7 linked regions of the Homo sapiens genome follow. The protein of the gene in region 3 purifies or fractionates together with the protein of the main gene of each other region. This does not show direct contact. Each region holds a gene or a part of one and is shown on either strand. Other genes may lie near its edges.

What was found.
Region 1: the proteins of HDAC2 (region 3) and ZNF217 purify together in Homo sapiens (affinity purification with mass spectrometry; 6 studies listed by BioGRID and IntAct, with this or other methods). This does not show direct contact.
Region 2: the proteins of HDAC2 (region 3) and ZMYM2 purify together in Homo sapiens (affinity purification with mass spectrometry; 7 studies listed by BioGRID and IntAct, with this or other methods). This does not show direct contact.
Region 4: the proteins of HDAC2 (region 3) and EZH2 purify together in Homo sapiens (affinity purification with western blotting; 5 studies listed by BioGRID, with this or other methods). This does not show direct contact.
Region 5: the proteins of HDAC2 (region 3) and CHD3 purify together in Homo sapiens (affinity purification with mass spectrometry; 12 studies listed by BioGRID and IntAct, with this or other methods). This does not show direct contact.
Region 6: the proteins of HDAC2 (region 3) and SNAI1 purify together in Homo sapiens (affinity purification with western blotting; 5 studies listed by BioGRID and IntAct, with this or other methods). This does not show direct contact.
Region 7: the proteins of HDAC2 (region 3) and SMARCA5 fractionate together in Homo sapiens (co-fractionation; 5 studies listed by BioGRID, with this or other methods). This does not show direct contact.

What each region holds. Positions count from the first base shown.
Region 1 is NC_000020.11:53,566,571-53,569,839, forward strand, and holds the end of ZNF217 (zinc finger protein 217), read right to left. Parts: intron 2,695-3,269; coding exon of another isoform or gene 2,546-2,694; 3' UTR 501-2,545; downstream 1-500.
Region 2 is NC_000013.11:20,059,727-20,063,226, forward strand, and holds part of ZMYM2 (zinc finger MYM-type protein 2), read left to right. Parts: intron 1-1,326; coding exon 1,327-1,498; intron 1,499-3,119; coding exon 3,120-3,245; intron 3,246-3,500. UniProt on the Homo sapiens protein: Involved in the negative regulation of transcription.
Region 3 is NC_000006.12:113,940,149-113,943,648, forward strand, and holds part of HDAC2 (histone deacetylase 2), read right to left. Parts: intron 3,359-3,500; coding exon 3,203-3,358; intron 1,618-3,202; coding exon 1,560-1,617; intron 941-1,559; coding exon 910-940; 3' UTR 1-909. UniProt on the Homo sapiens protein: Histone deacetylase that catalyzes the deacetylation of lysine residues on the N-terminal part of the core histones (H2A, H2B, H3 and H4).
Region 4 is NC_000007.14:148,825,292-148,828,791, forward strand, and holds part of EZH2 (histone-lysine N-methyltransferase EZH2), read right to left. Parts: coding exon 3,449-3,500; intron 1,976-3,448; coding exon 1,873-1,975; intron 1,342-1,872; coding exon 1,163-1,341; intron 1-1,162. UniProt on the Homo sapiens protein: Polycomb group (PcG) protein. Catalytic subunit of the PRC2/EED-EZH2 complex, which methylates 'Lys-9' (H3K9me) and 'Lys-27' (H3K27me) of histone H3, leading to transcriptional repression of the affected target gene.
Region 5 is NC_000017.11:7,891,789-7,895,288, reverse strand, and holds part of CHD3 (chromodomain-helicase-DNA-binding protein 3), read right to left. Parts: intron 2,004-3,500; coding exon 1,720-2,003; intron 1,485-1,719; coding exon 1,354-1,484; intron 1,175-1,353; coding exon 1,024-1,174; intron 875-1,023; coding exon 681-874; intron 373-680; coding exon 139-372; intron 1-138.
Region 6 is NC_000020.11:49,985,980-49,989,386, reverse strand, and holds the end of SNAI1 (zinc finger protein SNAI1), read right to left. Parts: intron 1,516-3,407; coding exon 1,331-1,515; 3' UTR 501-1,330; downstream 1-500. UniProt on the Homo sapiens protein: Involved in induction of the epithelial to mesenchymal transition (EMT), formation and maintenance of embryonic mesoderm, growth arrest, survival and cell migration.
Region 7 is NC_000004.12:143,516,702-143,520,201, forward strand, and holds part of SMARCA5 (SWI/SNF-related matrix-associated actin-dependent regulator of chromatin subfamily A member 5), read left to right. Parts: intron 1-653; coding exon 654-728; intron 729-3,500. UniProt on the Homo sapiens protein: ATPase that possesses intrinsic ATP-dependent nucleosome-remodeling activity.

The sequences.
Region 1 (3,269 bases), on a different chromosome or scaffold from region 3:
TCTGTTGCCCAGGCTGGAGTGCACTGGCGCAATCTCAGCTCACTGCAACCTTTGCCTCCCGGGTTCAAGTGATTTCTCATGCCTTAGCCTCTTGAGTAGCTGGGGCCACAGGTGTGCACCACCACACTCAGCTAATTTTTGTATTTTTAGTAAAGACGGGGTTTCGCCATGTTGGCCAGGCTGGTCTCAAACTCTTGGTTTCAAGTGATCCACCCGCCTTGGCCTTCCAAAGGGCTGGGATTACAGGCGTGAGCCACGTGCTGGCCTTAAAATTGTGTTTATAAGCCAGGCATGATGGCTCGATACTCGGGAGGCCGAGAGCTGGAGGATCAGTTGAGCCCAGGGGTTCAAGGCTGCAGTGAGCTGTGATTGCACCACTGCACTCCAGCCTGAGTGACAGAGCAGGAGCACATCTCAAAAAAAAAAAAAAGAAAGAAAACTAAAAAGTTAAATAAAACAAAATCAGAAACCAGAAACACAATAAACACTAAAACTCAAGATTGCAAAACACCAAATCTATATTTACACTTCCACATATAATAACATAACTTTAAGCTGAAATATATCATAAATAAAACAAGTAATGTCTACTGTTCGACAACTTAAGTATCAACAATTAAAATAAATCAAACTGGAATGAAATAAATACATAAACAAAAATCCAACGAATTGTACCTCTATTATATGTACTGTTGTCTCAAAGAAAAAAAAATATAAAACCAGTAGTATACCAATAGTTAATACTGATGGACACAAAAACATATTTTGAAGTACAAAGGGCTGTAGGAAAATAATTGGTATTTTTATACATTCAGAAATGTGGTTAAAAAGAGAAATCTGAAAGCCCAAAAAATTCCAGCATAATACAAATCGACTTGTTTTCAAATAGATTTGGTGATTCTTTTTTTTAAATACAGGTTTAAATTCCAGCCCTCTATTATCACATACCCCCTTTAAGATTTATGGTTCTAGTCACAGCAAGCTCTCTGTAACACTCATTGGATTAGGCAAAGATTGAGTCAATCATCTTGCAAATGTGTTAATCTTCAAAAATAGGCTATAAAAGTGCAAAACTATGAAAACAAAATCTAGATTATGTACATATGGCTCAGCTTGTGAACAGGAAAAAAGGTCAATAGTGTACACTTTCCTGATACAAAGCACTTCATTGCAATGCCAACAGACTGATCTCAAATGAGTTCTCCCTTGTAACACAGGAGCTAAGACTTCTATCAAGGAGGACATCTTACGTTGCATAATTTAAAAAAAAAAAATTTTTTCTAGGATTACCCTTGCTCTATGGAGAACAGCGAGGCCAGAAAAATGAACAGTGCAAATTTATTTTTGAAACAGTTTCTTAATAAAATATTTTGTGGTCACTAAGCCCATGTACTAATAAACTCAGCCATGGACAGCATATTAAAGAACAAAAGTTTAAAATATCTAGGAAGCCAGCTGGTGGCCATCTTCTCTAAAACCCAAATTGCATGTGCACTGAGAAAAATGTTACTGCTTCAAAACAACCAAAAATGGGAAAATAACTGAGGTCTAGAAACAGATTTTCTCTTTCTAGACTCCCAGCGGGCTCGGCCAGCAGTTCCTTATTCAAAATCAATGTGTCTATAATCAACTCTAGTATGTCCACAGTTCACCCAAATGCCAGATACATTAAGACTACCAAATACAAACCTAAAATGTTCCCCCCAAAATTTCCCTTAAAACTGTTCCCCAATACCTGCAATTCACAGATATAATTTAGCATTTTTGTTTTTATATACTAATTTAGGCAAAACCCCCCCGCCACTGAATCGTCCAACAAAAATGATTAATTTGACAGAAACAAATTTAAATAACTGCACATACAGTTTATGTTTATACAACGTGTGGCTGCTCTACAGAGAAAATGCTTGTCTGTAGACACACTCTCTTAAAAATCCTACAAGCCATCCCAACGCCCTCAGTCAAGGATCCTGGAGGTTCCAGGACAATCTGGAGAGGCGAGGAAGAAGGTGCCTTCCCCATCTGAGATGCTCAAAGTTGCGATAAAATGCTGCCAGCTTCCGAATGGCTGACCTCGATATCTGCAGCACATATCATAGAGGGTCAATACTTCCATTAACAATTTTAAGACAACAATAGATTTGGGTGGATTCAACATAATACAAAATCATTGACAGTTTAAAAAAAAAAAAACATACATTTTAAATGAAAGAGCACAATAGCAGAAACTGCTCCAAGTGATGAGCTGCATTAGAGAAAAGGAATACACACAGTATTTGAACAAGCAGGTTTACAACTTAGATATTTACAGATTTTTACCTGAGGTGCAAGCATTATATACTTTTCCCCCATCCCGCCCCACCCAACCCAAATGATTTCTTTTCAGCAGCGCTCAAGTATGCAAAAATTCCACTTCTTATTTGGTCAATTCTAAGAAAAATATTATTCAGGGACAAAATAGAGATTTCCAGTCCCCATGTATGTAAGTTCCAACTGTTCCAACTAGTTTGTATTGCTATTTGGTACAAAAGTTAACAGAACAACTTTACACAACTGTAGTGTTCCTTGCAGATTCCTCATATGTTTTATGTACAGTACAATCACAGCTTATTTCAGTAGCTTTCACCATTCGCTTCTCAAAGGATGAAGTAAAATTTAATTTCATGGGGAGTAAGCACTGACATCCACCAAGACCTAAGGAAAACAACATTTTTTAAATGATTAAGATCAAAACTGAATACAGTTTAGAAAATTCTTTCTTTAAAAAAGCGTAATACATAGAACCAAACTGACCTAGAAATGCAATGGGTTCTATTTGTTGTTGTTGTTTTTGAGACAGTCTCACTCTGTCGCCCAGGCTGGAGTGCAGCGGCACGATCTTGGCTCACTGCAACCTCTACCTCCCAGGTTCAAGCGATTCTCCTGCCTCAGCCTTCCAAGTAGCTGGGACTACAGGCATGCACCACCACGCCCGGCTAATTTTTTTGTATTTTTAGTAGAGAAGGGTTTCACCATGTTGGCCAGGCTGGTCTTGAACTCCTGACTTCAAGTGATCTGCCCGCCTTGGCCTCCCAAAGTGCTGCGATTACAGGCATGAGCCACTGCGCCTGGCCCTGGGTTCTATTTAAGTTCAACTTTTGCTATGAAAGTATTAGGAGAATGACTAACTAGATAATGCTGCGAACTTTGGAGCTACTTTTAGTAATTTAACTGAGATGACTTAACCAAGAATCAGAATTCAGTAAAAGGCAGTTGCCATGCACAAGAAA
Region 2 (3,500 bases), on a different chromosome or scaffold from region 3:
CAGGTTCCACATCCGTGACCAAACACAGACTGAAAATACAGTATTCTGCCTGTAATCCCAGCACTTTGGGAGGCTAAGGTAGGCGTATCTTCAGCCCAGGAGTTCAAGACCAGCCTGGGCAACATGGTGACACCCTGTCTCTACTAAAAATGTAAAAATTAGCCAGGCACAGTGGCATATACCTGTAATCCCAGCTACTTGGGAGGCTGAGGTAGGAAGATTGCTTGAGCTTGGGAGATGGAGGCTGCAATGAGCCGTGATTGCACCACTGCACTGCAGCCTGGTCTACAAAGCAAGTCCTTATCTCAAAAAAAATGAAAATAAAAAATTATTTGAGGATGTGAAATCTGTGTAGAAGGCTGACTGTAGGGGTGTGGAACTTGAGTATGCATAGACTTTGGTATCCATCCACAGGTGGTCCTGGAACCAATCCCCTAGAATACTGAGGATAACTCTAGTTGCAGTTACTAGTTTAATGAAGCTAATAAAACCATCTTTACCTTTCTTCGACAGTTAACTTAGATTTGGTTGAATCTCTGTTGTCATGATTGATTGCTTTGTGTATAGTATGTATATGTTCATCCTCGAGAGTGACATTTCGCGGATGTCTGTGCCTGCTCTGTGCATATTAAGTTTATATTTGGGTTCATTTTCAAAAGGAATATTTGTGGGCCATGTGCAGTGGCTCACGCCTGTAATCCCAGCACTTTAGGAGGCTGACATGGGCAGATCACCTGAGGTCAGGAGTTCAAGACCAGACTGGCCAACATGGTGAAACCCCCTCTCTACTAAAAATACAAAATTAGTTGGGCATGGTGGCACATGCCTGTAATCCCAGCTGCTGGGGAGGCTGAGGCAGGAGAATCGCTTGAACCCGGGAGGCGGAGGTTGCAGTGAACTGAGATAGCGCCATTGCACTCCAGCCTGGGCAACAAGAGTGAAATTCCATCTCAAAAAAAAAAAAGAAAAATATTTGTGAAGCCATAAGGTTTAGAACTGAAACATAGAATTTCATATAAAATATTATTTTATCCCAAATCACTTGCAGTACTTAGAAGAACACTGTGTCAGGGCTTGGCTATTATAGTCCCCTGGGGGACAGAAATACTTCAAAAATTCTTTTTCTTTAATTTGAATTCCAAAAAGTAGATGCTTGTATTCTAGGCTTTCTTATCACAGTTAACATCTTAGTTTTGTATGTGTTCTTTTCAAAGCTTTTATCCAGTGTGATATTACAAAGTAGATCATGTGTCAGAGTAATTTTTAATTTGGAAAAATACCTTTTAATGTTTAGTAAACCTAACTCAAAATGATTTGGTTAATTAGGTGCCAGTTCCTGTTTTTCTGCCTGCTCCATTGGACAGCAGTGAGAAGATTCCTGCAGCAATTGAGGAGCTAAAAAGCAAGGTTTCTTCAGATGCTCTTGATACAGAGTTGCTTACAATGACGGATATGATGAGTGAAGACGAGGGGAAAACAGAGACAACCAACATCAACAGTGAGCTACACTAAATTATACCTTGCGAATAAGTGTTAACATTGGTTATTTATAAGTATTGTTACAGTACTTTCCAGGGCATATCATTTTGTTTCAACTTATGTGGGGGTGAGGAAAGCATTGTAACAAAAATGTTTTTTATATTAAGAGATCTACACTGTATTTAGCCAGGTGCCCTCAGACAGATATCCGAAGCAGGAATTTGGTCTTTGGTCTCTGTTTTAAGCAGGATTTGACTTGTAAAATCAACTCAAAATTATTCTTGTTAATGGAGTAGTGCTGATGCAAAACTATAATAACTTGTAGTAGACTCTAATGATGATCAAAACTCTTATTTTGTAATAGTTATCCCTAGTTTTTTGTTTTGTTTTGTTTTTTTTTTTAGATGAACTCTTGCTCTGTTGCCCAGGGTGGAGTGTAGTAGCATGATCCCGGTTCACTGAGATCTCTGCCTCCTGGGTTCAAGCTATGCTTCTGCCTCAGCCTCCTGAGTAGCTGGAATTACAGGCACGTGCCACCACGCCCAGCCAATTTTTGTCTTTTTAGTAGAGACAGGGCTTCCCTATGTTGGCCAGGCTGATCTCAAACTCCTGACCTCAGGTGATCCACCTGCTTCCCAAAGTGCTGGTATTACAGGTGTGAGCTACCACACCCAGCCCCTAGTTTTCTTTTATTGCTTATACTAATAAAATAATTTGCATTATCTAAACCAGAGTTTATCTTAACCTCTGTTAGGGCAGTGCTTGCGCTACATGGTATAACGTGATGAGTGTGTTGTGGATGGTTCTAAGTCACTTAGAATATTTATTTTCCACCCTTAACCCTCTCTTGATACCCAAAGTCCTATTTCAACCTTGAGCTAATTCTTACCCTTACCCTAGAGGACAATCAAAATACTATAATTTTCTCTGGATTTAATAATGAGACAGTGTTTTTGAAGCACTGTGGTAAGGAGTTGTGAAATTAGTGGGTTGCAACCAGTGTTTTTGTTTAAGAAAAGAAAAAGCTAAGTGGAATAGGGTAAGAGAAATGACAGTGTGAATCCCTCATAGAAAGGGTAAGTATTATTTTGTGAAACCAGTGTGTATACAGATGTCTTTCTGTTCCCCACCATCACCTTGCAGTATGTGCTGGATAAAATGCATTTCTTGCCATGATTACAACACAAAAACACTTGAAAGCAACTGATCGAACCATTAAAAGGCAGTTGTTAATATGCATATATTGAACAATCTGAGAAACCTGGGTCAAAATTCAAAGAGTATTGAAAACTACAGTTGTCTACCCTCATTAGTTTATTTTTGACAAAAAGTTGCTTTTAGAAATACTTTACTTGTTGAAGTTGTTTTACTATCAAAGCATACCTATTAGCTTTTGAAGGGAGTCCTCCTGTAAAATTTATAGGATTAAAAGTTTTCATGTGCTTGTGACTAATTATGAGGTTTATAGTGGTTTACATTTTGAGATAGTTATATATATAATATGCCCTTTTCTTTTGTGACATTATACGTATTTTTTTATATTGCATTTAAAATTAAATGACTTGCTTTTGCCAGATTAAATACAGATACCATTGGGGTTTTCTGTTTTGATTCCTAATGATAATATGGATTGATTTCAGGTGTAATTATTGAAACAGATATAATTGGTTCAGACCTTTTGAAGAACTCTGACCCAGAGACACAGTCCAGCATGCCTGATGTACCATATGAACCAGATTTGGATATCGAAATAGATTTTCCCAGAGGTACTCAAAACCTTTATGACTATGGAATTTAGTTATGGAGTCAACTGTGGTTATGATCATTTACCATTTGATGTTTGTGTCATTGCCTTTTAGCAGTGTTCATATTTTTTATTCTTGTTATTTTTTAAACTCACCTTAAGAGTTAACTTCATATTTTGTTGTTGTTTTTTTTTAAAAACCCACCTTAACAGTTAACTTCTGGAATGAGATCACTTGAGTCCAGGAGTTCAAGACCAGCCTGGGCAATGTGGTGAA
Region 3 (3,500 bases):
ACTCCTACAGTCTTAAAATGGGCAGACACACAATAAGTAGTTGCTGAATGATAAATCAGTTGTGTTTATTTCCTTGAGTTAGAAACCTGGATGTCACGTAAATAATAATGGAACCTGGATGCCATGTAAATGCAGTAAAAGAAACAGGTTTTGTCTGCAGGTTCCATTTTAAACCAGCAATATACTATAGGCAAGTCTGGTCAATACAAGTTCTGGTCAGTTTCTTCTTTCAATTCAGAATTTCCATTTCAATTTTGAGAATCTTTGGGTCAACTCAAAGAACTCCTACATCTCAATTGCAGAGTCTGTATTATTTCATAAATTGTAATGGGATGTTAATCTTCACTGATACTAACTGGCTAAGCTATAGAGGGCAAGGTGGTAGAATTTCTATTGCAAAGATAAGTAATAATTACTATAAATACTCTTCCCAAAGAAACAGCAAATAGTTATCTTTCAAGCTGTAATCATTATCTTTCACCTAGAGTGTATTGTAAGTCTACAGAAATGATGTCATTAGCCACTGAAACAAGACTTCATATTGTAGTAATAAACAGACAAAAGATAATCCAAGTACAATTTTTTAATAAAGATAATTACAAAAGATGGAAAAATCAGCTCAGAAAGGCCAATTACTTCTTTAATAGATCAGTTTTTTTGACATAATAACTCACATCAATTTTAAATACTATCACATAAAGCATGGTGGAGAAAAGAAATTTTGCTTCATAATTAGAAAAACTCACAATAAAACTTGCCAAGAAAAACAAAAACGAAAAAGCCATTTGAAAATAAATACAGTCCATGCCAAAGTAGTATAAAATGAAGCCAGAAGTCTTCAAAAAGAAAACATTTTCCTTTCAATATTTTCTTTTTAATGATTTTCTGAAATTGGTGAGACTGTCAAATTCAGGGGTTGCTGAGCTGTTCTGATTTGGTTCTGTTAAAAGAGGCAATGTGAAATATTAAAAATGGCACAATCTTGGTTTAAATGCACTGACCTATTATATTGATCAGGTCCTGTAGGCTCATGCTAAGAAACACATTAATTGATAATGTCTTAAGTGTTTCTGGAGTAATTAATGCCTTAATTTTTCTAGTGATTTAATAAACTATTCCAAGTTATCCTGTAAAGGCTGGCACAAAATTATGTGTGCCCAAACATTTACATGCTTTCTGACACTAAAATCCTCAACTGTTTTTACTTAAAATTGTTTCTTAAATTTACCTATCTCACAACACTAAAAAAATCATGTACACAGAAATAAGAACACCATGAAAACCATTAAGTGCATATATAAAAGATAACAGCAAAAAAGGGTCTCAGATAAACTACGTACAAGAATACAAACTGACTGATATAGTTATACTGATAAACCAATAGGTAAGATGGCATATGTTGTCTTATGTACCAATACAAACTAAAATTCAGAGCACCTCATAATGATGTTCTAAGGTTCAGTCTAGTATTTCTGAAGTGTGTACACAAACACACACCAATAAACATGTTTAGTATTTTTATAGTATGTAAAAAGTACTTGATAAGGAACATCATTTACCCTTTGGTATCTGTTTTTTCACCACTGTTGTCCTTGGATTTATCTTCTTCCTTAACGTCTAAAAATAAAGATTGGGAAAAGATTAAAACCTATTTTGAAATATAAAATGTATATATATTATTTCAAAATATACTTTATTTTTAAAATATAAAAAGTTATGCAATCTTATTATTAATGAATTCGGTCTAAATAAGCTTTGTGTTGGGTGTTTCCTAAACGATGGCAGTACAAGCTATGAATAGTCACTGGATTGGGGTGCAGAGGGAGAAAAGGTGGCCCTAACTCTAGGTTTTGACCTATAGATTTAAAAAAAGCTTTCTGTGGTAGTATTTCATTTTTCAGTAGGCTGAAGAATTTTAACAACTGCAAGGCCCTATCGAAAGAGCCTCATCACCAAATAGAGAGTTTATTTTTTAAGCACAGAAAAGATAAAGCTTTTAAAAATGAGAACACCAAAAACAGACAGACAAGAAAACATAGTGAAAATGAAAGAAAAGAAAAAAAGTTAGGAAAATCCTACAGCTAAAGTTAAGTCGTCCTTAATTCAGTCATGGCTTGAATTTTTGGATGTCAATCAGTTACAAATATAGACTGAAGCCATCATTGTAATACATTGGGAAGTTAAAATTATAAATTTCTGTATGTAGCCTATTGAGGAGTGAATCCACAAGTAAAAGAACAGAACTAAATGTGTCAGATGTTATAGATTACTAACTCTCTAGTTTAAAAAAAAAAAAAAAAGCTGGCTTATTCACATAACTTCAATTTGATAGACATAGGAAAAATTGGATCATTATCTCTAAATCAGTTTTTCACATACTACAGGATCAAAATTAACAGGTTAACTAAAACGTGTGCTCATCACCATTACTTGCATTAGGAAATGCATCAAGTGCTGAGAATACAAATATTTAAGATACTGTGTTCCCTAGCCATGAGCAGCTCAGTCTAGTAGGGAGACAAAATCCTGTGAGGTGCTATAATATGATGTGTTAAATAAAATGGCAGAGGCATGTGTAAGTGTTCTGGGAAGTCAGATGAAAGGTAACAGATTCCGGTAGCAAATTCAATTGCCTAAAGCTAACACAGCGTTTTAAAGTAAGGCAATGTATCAAAGTATTTTTTCCTCCCTAACCCAGGTCCCAAATCCCCTCCTAGCTTTCCTCAGAGTTTTTAATGTTTTCTTCAATTTCTGAACAAAATCCATTATTTGACCTTTTTCAAAATGGCAAAACTGGTCTAAGGATATGTAACTCTTCTTTGTGTTTTCTCCCATTAAATAAGCTTTAGGTAGCTAAAAATTACCTTAGAAGTTCAGTTCTGACCATGCACTACCAATAGATTCATAATTACTTTGTCCTCTTTCTTAACCAATCTATATCACAATGCAATGTTCACTATTTTAAACCTATGTTATCAAGAAAATAAGGTTTCCTGTATTACTAAAGCAAATAGGAACAATAACATTTATATAAAAGCTTTAAGAGCTAAGTACCACTTATATGTAAGAAAAAAGAGTCACCTACCTAGCATACTTCCTCCTGATACCTGTGCAACTGACTTCTCGATAGCATAAACATTATAATGCAGCCCAATTTTTAAAATTTACAATTAAAACACAATTACCAAGAAACAAATCTGACCTGTTTTTTTGTCCTCTGTTTCTTTCTTATCTTCTTCAATTCTAGCTTTCTTTGCTCCTTTCTTATGATCAGCCACATTTCTTCGACCTCCTTCTCCTTCATCCTCAGAATCTGAGAATTCTTCATCACAAGCTATCCGCTTGTCTGATGCTCGAACTGCACAGAATATTTTAATAAATTTTGACAAAAACAGTCACAGGTTTTATAATCATTACAGCATACTCATACAAATGCACTAAGCAGTTAGTTACCACATTTAAACGTAAAGGGTAACATGCCTAATGATTTTAAAATTTGA
Region 4 (3,500 bases), on a different chromosome or scaffold from region 3:
ACAAATGGATGACTTACTACGAATTTTTAAAACTACCAAATCAATTTAAACTAGATGAGGAGTTAGAACAAGAGCAAGGAGGTAACAATATAATGATAATTCTAAAAATCTACTTCAAGTTTTTCTATTTTAAGATAACTAAACCACTAATATGTCACACACAAAAACAAAACTTAACATTTCCAGACCAATGTATTACATCACTCAACACATTATTAGCTGCAGCAAAAACAAGTAGAGCAAACACTTAGGAGGAGGTGAGGTACAGCTGCTTGGGCAAGCTTAAAAAGACGTTATCATTGGTGAACGAGGAGGAATAAATCTGTCAATGGTAGGCACAGGAACTCAAAACAACAAAGCAATGTGGGGCCGTTGAGTACAGGGGAAAACGATTTTACAATGGGTCAAAGCCCCTAAAGAAATTACCATGCCATAGACAGACGTACTAAAATACAATATAGGAAAAACCAAACTATAATAAGCAAACTACTCTAGGAAAATTAGGAAGTATTAAATACATTTTCAAAATATGTGCCTCAAAAGTAGTTGACGCTTTTAAACTGTGCTTAGAAGTTTCAATTACCAGGAAAATTTACTAAGAAACCACATTCCCTAGAAATGCCAGAGGAAAAAAGTATTTTTGTATATACCATACTTACATTTTCACTAAGAACATTTTACGTTTTACTTGTATTCAAATGCAGGTATTTTTAAAAAACAACTTACCCAGAGGGCAAAAAAATAAAATAAAATAAAATAAAATTACATTAAATCGACAAGCACTTACCTGAACATTTTTTTGGCCAATTTCTTATTTAACACAATTTATTCATCAATATCAGCAATGTTGCTCTGGGCTACCAGTTCATAATAATAGTTTTATTGTAAAACAACTGCTTAGTTAGCACTTACGGGGGAAAAAAAAAAAAATCACTGACCTGAATTCCATGTTAGTGGAAAATAGTAGTCCAAATGAAATACATGCAAAAGATTTCAGAGCAATCCTCAAGCAACAAAGTAAAAATAATAATACTGAGATCTAAAGATATTTGTCAAAGTAACTACAAGATTAAATGATAAATTCTAGTTGTAATAAATGATAGCACTCTCCAAGCTGCTTTAAAACATAATTCCACAACAAAGATAGAAAATGAAAACGTACAATAATTGCACTTACGATGTAGGAAGCAGTCATATTTAAAACATCGCCTACAGAAAAGCGTATGAAAGGAGTGTAAGCTTTGCTCTCTCTGAACAGATTTAGCATTTGGTCCATCTATGTTGGGGGTACATTCAGGAGGAAGTGCGCCTGGGAGCTGCTGTTCGGTGAGTTCTTTATATCTGACATTAACCAAGAAAAATTTAAGTAAACATGAAACAAAAATCACTTTTTTGAAAACAGTTTCTAAAAGGTTTCCATGTGTTACTTTTGATGTTTATCTTGCCTAAAACATAAAGGAATGGCTCTATTTAGATAAAGAGCCAACTAAATATTGTGCATGGTGTTATCAAGAATCAAATTCATCGATATGATTCAAATATATCATGGAAAAGGATATTATATTAGTTTTAACTAAACATCAAATTTCTACCAGTATCCAGATAATTTTCCTGTAAATGTACTACTGTAAATTTTATGTATATGTGTGTGTTTATGTGTATATATAAATTATACATATGTATTTATTCTATCTACAGGAAATATTTTGTAATGCAGAGTACCACAAGTACACATGTTGCTTCAAGTATCTTGCAAACACTGTAAACAAAGTGTAGTGGCTCATCCGCTACATTGATTCCATTTGTAATAAACCAAAATGGTGAGTTACATACCATACAGGGCAAGATTGCCTCAAAGGAACAAATTCTTACTTTTCCTTTAGTTCTTCTGCTGTGCCCTTATCTGGAAACATTGAGGAAATGGCTTCAAAAATTTTATCAGAAGGAAATTTCCGAGGTGGGCGGCTTTCTTTATCTAAACAGGAGAATATGAAAGGAAAAAAAGAATGGAAGTAAACAAGTTTTTGATCTTTCATTTTCTCTACCCAATTATGTCTCTATAACAAAGCTGATTTTCTAAGAAATCATCTCTATTTTGTGTTTTACTTACTTCTCACATACTTTACATGTCTGTGGAATGCCAGTCAGTCAAAAACAAAATTCAAATTCAAATATGAAAAGCTTTAAGAGCACTGGGAAGCAGAAAACCTAGGTTCTACTCCCAGCTCTGCTACTAACTGATTTTGTGACTTAGAGTGATCACTTTACCTCTTGGGTCTGTTTACTCATCTGTAAAATGAAGGAGCTGAACTAGATGATCAATAAGGTCAATAAGGTACCTTTTTGTTATTTTCTCTTTTTTGAAATACGCTTCTTAGAAATTGCTATTTCACCCGCCAAATTATTCTATTCTATGCTGCCTTAGCATGAGCTTTGCCAAGTAGAGAACACCAACTATTGACTCTGTTTCTTCCCAATAGTGTAATCTTATAAGTTACTTAACCTCTCTAAATCTATCCCCTCAAATAGAAAATGGATCTGACAGGTGGGGCGCAGTGGCTCACGCCTGTAATCCTAGCACTTTGGGAGGCCGAGGCAGGTGGATCACGAGGTCAGGAGATAGAGACCATCCTGGCTAACACGGTGAAACCCCGTCTCTACTAAAAAATACAAAAAATTAGCTGGGTGTGGTGGCAGGTGCCTATAGTCCCAGCTACTCGGGAGGCTGAGGCAGGAGAATGGCGTGAACCCAGGAGGCGAAGCTTGCAGTAAGCTGAGATGGGGCCACTGTACTCTAGCCTGGGCGACAGAGCGAGACTCCGTCTCGAAAAAGAAAATGGATCTGATAATAACATCCATCTCATGAAGCCATTATGAGGATTAAGTGAGCTGGTGCATAAGAAGTGATTAGTACACAACTTGTACACGGTGAATATCAATGTTATATATTATAATGATGCCCAGTGAAGCACACAAAAAATTACGTTCTTTGCTAGCCAAAGGAAACAAAGATACTCAAGTGAAGATAATGTTGCAAGTATTATGCTTTTTTTTTTCTTTTTTAAGGCAAGGTCTCACTCTGTCACCCAGCCAGACTGTGCAGTGGCACAATCACAGCTCAATGCAGCCTACACCTCCTGGGCTCAAGCAATCACCCTGTCTCATTTTTTTACTTTTTAGTAGAGATGGGGTCTCACTATGTTGCCCAGGTTGGTCTTGAACTCCTGGGCTCAAGCAATCTGCCCACCTTAGCCTCCCAAGTGCTAGGATTACAGAGTTAGCCACCCTACCTGGCCATAATATGTTAATTTTGATTATACTGCTATCAATGTGATATTTAACAAAGAAAGAAAAAGAGAAAGAAGAAACTAAGCCCTATTTCTACTCTTTCTACTGTTTTTGAAAGAAAGCTGTAATGGCTACACAGAATCCTAATAATCAGGCATACCATCTCGGTGATCCTCCAGATCTTTCTGCTTTTCTTCTCTTTCTTCAGGATC
Region 5 (3,500 bases), on a different chromosome or scaffold from region 3:
CCATTGTTAGATGAGAAGATAGGGGTCCCACAAGGGTGGGGGAGTGCAGAGAAATGAAAAGCTGGACATGTGGGCCCCAGGGATGGGGGAAGGGATCAGGCCTGACAGTAAATACAGAGGGGAGATGTTTCCACTCACTGTGCATCGGGGACACAGCCATTCACCATTGGGAATGTCAGGCAGGGGAGGGTTTAGACAATGAATGTGGTAGGAGGAGATGCACGCGTCACAGCACAGGAGCTCCCCGCCGTCCTTGCATACGCGGCAGTACTCCATGTGATCATCCTCCTCCTCCTTCTCCCCTTCTTCCTCTCCCTCCTCTTCGTATTCTTCTTCTTCCTCCTTGGCCTCCCACTGGACCCCCTCCTTCTCCTAGGGGGCCAAGGATAGACACACAGACAGATGGAAGAAATTAAGGAATGAAACTGGAAGATACAGGCAAAGACAGGACACCTGAATCCTAGAAGTGCAGAGAAGACTGGTGGGAACTAAGGAAAAGGACACTCCAGTTTCAGAAATGTTGATTGTGGGAGAAAGGAATACATTAGGATCCTAGACACTCGGACATCTGTTACTAAGAAGTCCAGCCATCTGGGGGCAGGAAGAGGGTAAGTGAAACCAAGGGGGAAAGAGATGGGTGGGTTCCTCAGGGCCATCAGATGCTGGCATTAGGTACTCACACAGTGAGGGCAGCTCCATTTGCCCTCTGGAGCCCGGTCAAGCTCAGGATCAAGGCAGACGAGGTGGTAGGCACGAGGGCAGGTGTCACACAGAATAATTTCCCCACCCTGCTGGCACACCTCACAGTAATCCTGGTGATCCGTCTCGTAGCCATCAACCTCCTCCTCCCCGGCCACTGCAGGACAGCCCAGGACTGTCATATACCCCGGTGGAGGGATAAGGAAGCAGGGCAGGGGGAGATGGAGAGAGAGAGGGAGAAGGGTTGAAGAGAGAAGTCAAAATTGAAAATAAGAATGAGAGGACGGCCCACTGACAGGATCACACACAGTCAACACTCCTTACCCTTCTTCTTCTTCCTTCCTGGCCGGCCTCTCTTTAGTTTCTTGGTGCGGACAGGGCCATCAGGCCGGCCTGAGGCACTGTGGACACTGCCACTGTCCAGGTCTGATTCCTCAGCCTCTGGTTCAGGACCTTCGTCGCTCTGAAAAACATACTGCCCATAGCCCCGTGGCCGTCAGTGAGGCAGACTTCATTCTACGCCCTCCCCAGGCCTTTGGCTTCCTGTTCCGCCATCCCTCACGGATCCCTGTCTCTGGATCCTTGGCCCTCACGGATCCCTGTCTCTGGATCCTTGGCCCCCAGGTGTTTAGTAGACAGGGACGGGTCACTCACCGAGCCTCCTTTCTTCCTCTTGCCACCCAGAAGCCCTAGTTTTATTTTGAGTGGTGCCATTTTCTTTCCCCGAAGCTTCTTGCGTCCATCAGGCACTCGGGGGCTCTTACTCCGCCTCTTATGGCCTGGACCTGAATGAGGAGTCGGGGTGAGAAGAGGAAAAAGGAGAGGTCATGACATCCTGGAATTATGGAGGTCACAGGGGCCTCTGGATTCCTCTGTGGGCTGTGGTTTCACTAAGCCCCACTTCCTGGAAAGCATCTCTCCTCCAGCAATCAGGGCTGGGAAGGCGAGAGTTCCAGACTCTAATGTGAAGACATGCAGTTTGGAAGGTGAGATGACAGTTGTTGGAAGAGAGTTCCCTACCTTTGCCCTCTTTGGTTTTGGCTCTTCGGATGGGTGGGGGCTGGATATCAGCAGCAGGGGGTGGTGGAAGGGCGGGGGGTCCGGAGGGTGCTATGGGGGTGGCCGACGAGACAGCAGCTGACACCTGCTCAGCTACAGCTGCTGCTGCTGCTGCCGCTGCCGCCGCCACAGCAGCTGCTGACCCCTTGAAGGGGTTGTTGGCACTGAACTCTCTCCATTTGGCCCCAAGGATGGTCATCATCTTAGACATTGGGATCTTAGGATTCTTCTTAGCAATTAGGGGCCTGTAAATATAGAAGCAGAAAACTCGGACCCTTCACAGATGGTCTGGGAACACTGCCATCTCCCCTCATCAATTAAATCTATGTACATGCTAGGATTCCTGGGTGGTGAGAATATGTCCTATTAGGAAAAACAGCCATTTAAAAAAATAAATAAAAAGAAGTTTAAAAAAAGCGGGGAAAGAACAGGTTTAAAAAAGCATTAAAAAAGAAATACAGGCCAGGCACGGTGGCTCATGCCTGTAATTCCAGGCTGAAGCAGGAGGATTGCTTGAGCCCAGGGCTATGAGATAAGCCTGGGCAACAAAGTGAGATCCTGTCTCTACAAAAAATTAAAATAAAAAAAAATAATTAGCTGGGTGTGGCAGCACCTGAGGCTGAGGCAGGAGGGTGGCTTGAGCCCAGGAGTTGGAGGATATAGTGAGCTATGATCACACCACTGCAGTGCAGCCTGGGTGACAGAATGAGACCCTGTCTTTAAAAAAAGGGAAATAGGCTGGGCGCAGTGGCTCACGCCTGTAATCCCAGTACTTTGGGAGGCCAAGGTGGGAGGATCACGAGGTCAAGAGATGGAGACCATCCTGGCCAACATGGCGAAACCCCGTCTCTACTAAAAATACAAAAATTAGCTGGGTGTAGTGGTGCGCACCTGTAGTCTCAGCTACTCGGGAGGCTGAGGCAGAAAAATTGCTTGAACCTGGGAGGCAGAGGTTGCAGTGAGCCAAGATTGCGCCACTACACTCCAGCCTGGCGACAGAGTGAGATTCCATCTCAAAAAAAAAAAAAAAAAAAGGGGAAATAAAAAACAGCGAAATAAAACTTAAAAGCATAAAAGGTTAAAATAAAATCAACAAAAATGCTTTACTTTTGTATACTACTTTACAGTTCATAAAACCCTTTCACATACATTCCACCTTATCTTGTCCTCACAATAATACTCTTGAGTTGCTATGATTCTCTGCATTTTACTAGTAAGTTCCATGGGCCCTGAAGATGGGCTTCCGTAGGACGGAGTGTGAAAGAGTCAGACCATGCTGGTTCTGCTCTGGGGTGGGGTGCTCAACTCTTGTGCGGACACGGGTGATCCATGGTGCTGAGAAAAGCCCCAAGTTCAGCAGTAAGGTAGGTGAGACAACGTTACTAATGACAGTCACCAGTTACTGAATGCTCCCTAGGAGCCAGGCACTGACGGTACTGTGCTTTCCATTCATTATCCCACCAAACCCACACAGATTCCTATGAGGTATATATTATTATTCCCCGTTTATAGAAGAGGAAATTGAGGATTGAAGAAGTTCAGTCACTTGCCCAAAATGTAACCAGATGTGAACCTCAGCAGCTGCCTCCAGAGCACTGAACTGATATGTTAAAGTGCCTTCTCCCCAAAACAAAATACATCGGCACTATTTTTTCTTTTTTTTTTTTTGAGACGGAGTTTCGCTTGTTGCCCAGGCTAGAGCATAGCAGTGGTGTGATCTCGGCTCACTACAACCTTTGCCT
Region 6 (3,407 bases), on a different chromosome or scaffold from region 3:
GACGGAGGTGTGGGACTGACAAGGAGGCCCAAGGGGGCCTGGAGCCCTTGGAAACAGGAAGGACATCCTCTGTCTCCTTGGTCGCATTCCACTCGCATCTGGGGGAAGCGGACAATCCCACCCCAAAAGACCTGCAGTGCTGGGGCAGAGCTTTGCAGCCTGTCTAGTTGATAAGACCCAGGAAGCCAGCTTTGCACTCCGTGGGCCAGATCAACTTCAAAATTCAAGAACGAGAAAGTAAAAAGCCACAGTGTATAGTGAAGAGCTCGTATGGATGCCGCTGGCTCACCCAAACAGCAGCAGACAGGACACCCAGGCCAACGGGAAAACCCAGTCTCATAAGGTCCCTGACAGTGACACCCAGGACTCCAAAGCCCTATGATGTTTCCAAGGACAAGATTTAAGGCTGTGTCAGAAATATCTAAGCTTCAGGAATTCCTGTCCCCTCCTCCCTTACCAAAGACCTTTCAAAATACCCACTCCTCTATGACACCAAAGACTTTTTAATATATAAATTAACTGCTTTATTGAATATCAATAAACTGTACATATAACTATACAAAACGTTTCCTTGATACAAAATGTTTGAAATATAAATACCAGTGTACCTTTAAAAATGTAAACATCTTCCTCCCAGGCCCACCTGTCGGGCCCCCAGAATAGTTCTGGGAGACACATCGGTCAGACCAGAGCACCCCACTTGGGCCCCCGACAAGTGACAGCCATTACTCACAGTCCCTTTTCAGACATTGTTAAATTGCCCGGGAAACAGGTGCCACCCCACCAAACAGGAGGCTGAAATAGCTGCCTGGGCTCGGGGCATCTCAGACTCTAGTCTGCCACCGCCTCCGCAGGCCCTGGGGCTGCACCTGGGGGTGGATTATTGCATAGTTAGTCACACCTCGTGGAGGGTGGCCTGAGGGTTCCTTGTGGGGGGGTGTGTGTGAGGGGAGTGGGGTCCCCTGAGTGGGGTGGGAGCTTCCCAGTGAGTCTGTCAGCCTTTGTCCTGTAGCTCAAAGCAGCTGTATCCAAACAGCTCTGGATACAAAAACCCACGCAGACAGGCCAGCTCAGGAATCCCCCAGGGCTGGGGGCCAGCTGCCCTCCCTCCACAGAAATGGCCATGGGAAGGCCTCTTCCAGAGCCCAGGCAGAGGACACAGAACCAGAAAATGGTCTTCATCAAAGTCCTGTGGGGCTGATGTGGCCAGAAGTGGGGCACTCAGGAGGGAATTCCATGGCAGTGAGAAGGATGTGGGGTCCTTCCTGCTGGAGCTGGGGAAGGCTGTCAGGCAGGGGCAGGTATGGAGAGGAAGAGGGAGCCTCGAGGGTCAGCGGGGACATCCTGAGCAGCCGGACTCTTGGTGCTTGTGGAGCAGGGACATTCGGGAGAAGGTCCGAGCACACGCCTGGCACTGGTACTTCTTGACATCTGAGTGGGTCTGGAGGTGGGCCCGCAGGTTGGAGCGGTCAGCGAAGGCACGGCTGCAGTGGGGACAGGAGAAGGGCTTCTCGCCTGGGGAGAGAACGCCAGAAAGGCCGAGTGAGCCGTGGGACAACGGCTGGCAGTGATGGGAATCCCTCCCCGCATACCCCAAACCCTGAAAGAATCCCATGATCCCAGGAAAGCCAGGCCTCCGTCAAACACACAGCCAGGGTCCAAAGGCCGGGACCTGACGGAGCTCTGCTGCTTCCCACTGTGCAACTCTGAGCAAGTTGTCTGGCTTCTCTGAGCCTCCATTTTCCCACCTGTAAAATGGGGCTATTCACCCCCCACTCATAGGGGTTGATAAGTGACAGAAGGTAGGGTACTCATCCACATCCCGCAGGGACGTGCGAAGTGGTCAACAATGACTCAACACCTTTACTGATTCATCCTACTGTCACTTGATCCTACTGTGGTCTCATTTCAGAGACAGTGAAACTGAGGCCCAGAAGTAGCATGTTCAGGTTCCCCTGGCAGGACCCCAAAGCCTCTGATTTCACCTACTGCCCTTACTGCCTTCAGTCAAGGGAGGACGTGACTGGTGTCCTTACCATCAGTCCTGGAGTCATTCCTTGATTTACTCTGTTGGGGGCCAAAGCCAGAGTCAGCCTTAAGAGGCTTCCCCACCCCCACCTCCAAGCTGGTTAGGCCACTCCTGGGGCCCGGCCAGCAGCCTGCTTTCCTCACCACCCCACCTCCTGCGCTGTAATCCCAAATCTCCTTGTCTGTTCTCCAATCAGGCTGAGTCCCATAAGGGCAAGGGCCTCCTTTGAGTCCCTTCTGAGCCCCAGCCCAGGGCCTGGGCCCCTTTCTATCACCCAAGAGGCTACGGAAACCTGTGGCCCTGACACACCATCTGCCTGGCCAAGGCTGTGTTGGGAAAAGTCTTGCACATGGAGCTGGGTGCCCAGTAAATCCTCAACAAGCCCTTAGAGAATAAATAAGTCTGTTTTAAAAATTAAAGAGGCCTCAGAGGAGTCTGCCCCCTCACTCATGCCTCATAACAATCCCTGCTCCAACCAAAAAGCTATATAGTTCCAAAAACACCAATAATGTTGATTTGTTTTTTTCTGGGGGATGCAGCATTTTCCAAATAAAAGGTCATAACAGTAACCCATTAAACAAAAATCTATTGAGGCTGGGTGTGGTGGCTCACGCTTGTAATCCCATCACTCTGGGAGGCCGAGTGAGGCAGGATTGCTTGAAGCCAGGAGTTTGAGACAAGCCTAGGCGATAAAGCAAGACCCTGTCTATAATTTTTTTTTTAATCTACTGAGCTCCTACTAAGTGCTAGACACTATTCCATAATACTGAATAGTCTTTTTAAAAAACATGCAATTCTCCAATCCCCTCACGCCCAGTCTGATATGCCCGCAAGGTCAGGGCCCGCCTGTGAAATCCCAGCGCTGGATGGAATTTAAGAGCTGAGAGTGAATTCATTCCATCACCTCCTGGGTGCCTAGGGTGCCACACTGAGCTACCAGGGTAGGAGAGAGTCCAGAGGATGGCTCCAATGGGACCCATGCATTCAATAGGGACTTATGGAGCGCCTGAGAGCTGGACTCAGTCTCATGGGGCAGAAATGGAAACTCGCCACTCCAAAGGGTGGGGGACATAGAGGATTGGGGGAGGGGTGCCTGAGCACTACTCCACTCTGCCATTACTCAGCAGCCTCCACACGCCACGCCTGAAGGGTTTGTTGATTGCATTCTAAGTCTTCATGTGAATGAGAAGGGTAAGTTCACCCTTGTGAACTAAGGGCTGACTCTGGAGATCTGGAAAAGGGGCTGGAGTCCATTTGTAAGACCAGAGTTAGGACAGCACCTCCCTTCCCTTCCCAGGGCTGTTGGTGAAGTCCTGAGCACTACCCTCCTGTACAGTAAGTGCCCAAAGTGTGATGAGACCTGAACCCAAACAAAAGG
Region 7 (3,500 bases), on a different chromosome or scaffold from region 3:
TGCATCATTAATGAAGATTACTTCTGCCAATTTTTTTTAATGGATGAATAGAACTTTGCAGTGTAGAAGTTGTTTTTTGTTGCTTGTGACATATGAATGTCAGGATAAATATATTTGCAAGAATAACATTTATTACTAGTTTAGGAATCAGACTGTAGTTAGAGTATTCAATTTAGGCTGCGAGATAAAGTTTTTGTAATATTCCAGAAGGTGGAAATCAGGGTGACTAATTCTGATTTCTTTGTAGACATTTGTGTGGTAGCACAGTAGATACTGTAGTTTTATGACAAAAGGGGAACTTTTCCCCACATTTTATACTATTTAGTTTGGTTTCATGGTTATTACAGAAAAAGAGAAACAGATTGGCTTGTATTAAATGTAGTTTTCTTTTAGGATGATGAAGATAATCTTGTGTTCTAATCTTGGCAACAACCATACAGTTTATATATATGGGTTAAATACGTTGTTATCCCCATAGTATCTAATATCATTTTATCAGTTTTTCTGTTAGCTTAGATGACAGCTGTTTAAGTTTCTAGGAAGTTTGGGGTGAGAATGTATTATTTAAGATGTGTTTTGGTCAGAAATTGGTCTATAATGGTATGTTTACTATTTTCGAAGACCAATTCTATTTAATTATTTCTTTCTACCAGGAAATATTTGATGATGCGTCACCTGGAAAGCAAAAGGAAATCCAAGAACCAGATCCTACCTATGAAGAAAAAATGGTATGTTCTAGGCTTGTGAATAGAGTCTATAAGGAAAACTTTTTATCAGGTGATTAAATGTACTAAACATCTATCTTAGTCCATTTTGTGTTACAACAATACCACAGACTGGGTAATTTATAAAGAAACGAAATTTATTTCTTAGAGTTCTGGAGGCTGGCAAGTCCAAGGTCAAGGCCAGCATTTGTTGAGGGCCTTCTTGCAGTGTCATTATATGGAGGAAGGCCAAGAGAAGAGAGCAAGACAGGACTGAACTTTCTTTTATAACAAGCTCACTGGTGATAACCTCCTCCTGAGATACTGACAGTAATCTTTTCCTAATCACCTCTTATTAGGCCCTACCTCCCAACACTGTTGCGTTGGGGATTAAATTACAACATGGGAGATTTGGAGGGGGACACAGTCAAACCATAGCAATGTCTGTTTAATTTTTGTAATTATGGCACAGATATCCATTTGAAATATGTGTAATATGGAATACTATAACTTCCATATCTTATGTGTCTATGTAAGCCAAATGGAAGTATTATATGAATTAACATAATATGATGTCATTATCTAGTTATGTTAACAACACCTTTAAAAATTTAACCTTGGAAGCGAGGTGAAGACCAGAATAGTTACTCAGTGTATGTTTATTCTGCACTTGACTAGCATTGTACTCTGCTAGTTACCAAAAAAAGAAATATGCTCCTTGTTCACAGCATTTTTATATTATAGATGGGGTCTTTACAAAAAGAACATGACATTATATTGGAGTCATTCAAGTCCCAGTTCACGTTCCGTATCTTCTAAGAAACTTCTCAAAACTATGACTTGACTTAAACAGTACCTACACAGAGCTTTAAATTTAAATTCAGTTTTAGTAATAGTAGTAGTGGCTAACAGTGAATGTTTACTCCGTATCTGACCCTGTTAGGAATGCTTTATATGGATTAAACTCATTTAATTGTATTGAAATCTCAAAAAGTTAAAATAACAATGTATTAAATAAGAATACCACTACACAGTGTGCTCCTGTAGGGTAAAAACAGTGTCTTAATCTTTCTTTCTGTCTTCAGTACCCAGAACAGTATCTGGCACATAGCAGATCTTACATATTTTTTAAAACATACTTTTTTCTTGTCCTTTGACTTTCTCTTCCAAATCAGTAAATATTTTTGAATGTCTTAAATAGCTTCAAAATCTTAAAATTATGGTATGTATTTTATGTGCATGTATAATATGCACAATACATATAACACTATGTAAATTATAAATGATATATCTTTAGGTTTGATTTGTTATATATTTTACATATGTATATATGTAACTGTCACCTTTTTTGCTATCAAACTTAGAGAAAAAATAGATTTGCCGCTCTGTTTTTTTAAAGTGAATACTACTTTGAATACAGTCTACATATTTTAATACTGCTTTAACCCTTTATAGTTTAGATTCTGACACACTCTGCTGGTGAATCTAATTGCCAATTCTGAGGCTTAGTTTTAGTTTCTTGATTTGTGCTTGACATTGTTGACCATTCCTCAAAAATCTTGACTTGCCTTGAAAGACATTTTTTCCCGTGATAATATCCTCTTTGCTTTTTTATTCCTTTGTCCTTCCTTATTAAAATTTGAACATTTCTTCCTAGACAGTTTGATTCTTACTGGTTTTTACCTGGTATCTTTAAACTGAATATTTTCAAATACTTAACCTCTAGCCCAGAAGCCTGTAATCCGTATTTTCATTTACTTTAAAATCCTATTCATACCTCTTACTTGAGAATATCCAAAACTGAATTCATAATTTTTACTTAGCATACCTTAGTGTTACCTCAATGAATGAAAGTTCCTCTTCAGGTATACTCAAGATGTTCATGACAGTACTGCATACTTGTAAACAATAAGTTTACTTACGAGTTTATTCTCTTTTCCATATCACCCTAGTTTAGTATTTTTCTATTATTGCATGGATTATTTTGTGCTTCTGTATTTGCCTCCTTTCTTATGATCTGGCCCCTTCCAAGTTTCTTAACATTTTTGCAAAGTGTTATTTATAACACAAATTTGACTGTGAAATGGAGGTTTTTCAGTGGCTCTCTACAATGCTTTTCATTTTCTTAGTGGCCTTTATTGGAACTCTTTTCGTTTCTTCCAGGTTTTTCAGTCTCCCAGCATTATTTCCTTTTTTGACATCATGATCTTCACCTGCACAGTTTTCTTCTAAGCAAGAAGCTCCCTTGTCATCTGCTAGTTCTAACCATAGATAAGTTCACTATCCACTCCTCGTTCTTGAACCCAGAATGCTGAGTACTACTTCAGAAAACTAAATACTAGTGCTGATTGGTGCCAGTATAAGTTTATGGTTTTTATTTTCTTGGACCTTGAGTATTTATTGCCTATCAGTCTCATTTAGCCATTCTAAAATGTCCCCACTCTGATCAGTCTTTCTTCTCCATTTCTACCATGCCCTCATTTCCAATCTTCCTCCACAAAGAATTGCAGGCCTGTCTTTATTTTCTTTCTCTTTTCAAACATATGTATAGCCTCTATTATCCTACCTCATTTCTTCCTGTTTCAGAGAAAGAAGCTAGTCCAAAGCTATTCACTTTAATTTCCGTTTGATTTTATAATTGATTTCTTTCAGGTTCCTAATCATACTCTCTTGTTTCTGCTTTTTAGGTTCTGTTGGTTTTTCTCCCTCAAGACATTTCAGTTTTAACCTTTTCATTCTTTCAAGCAGTTTATCTTGATTCCAAACATAATTACAATAATTATTTTTTCAGTCCAA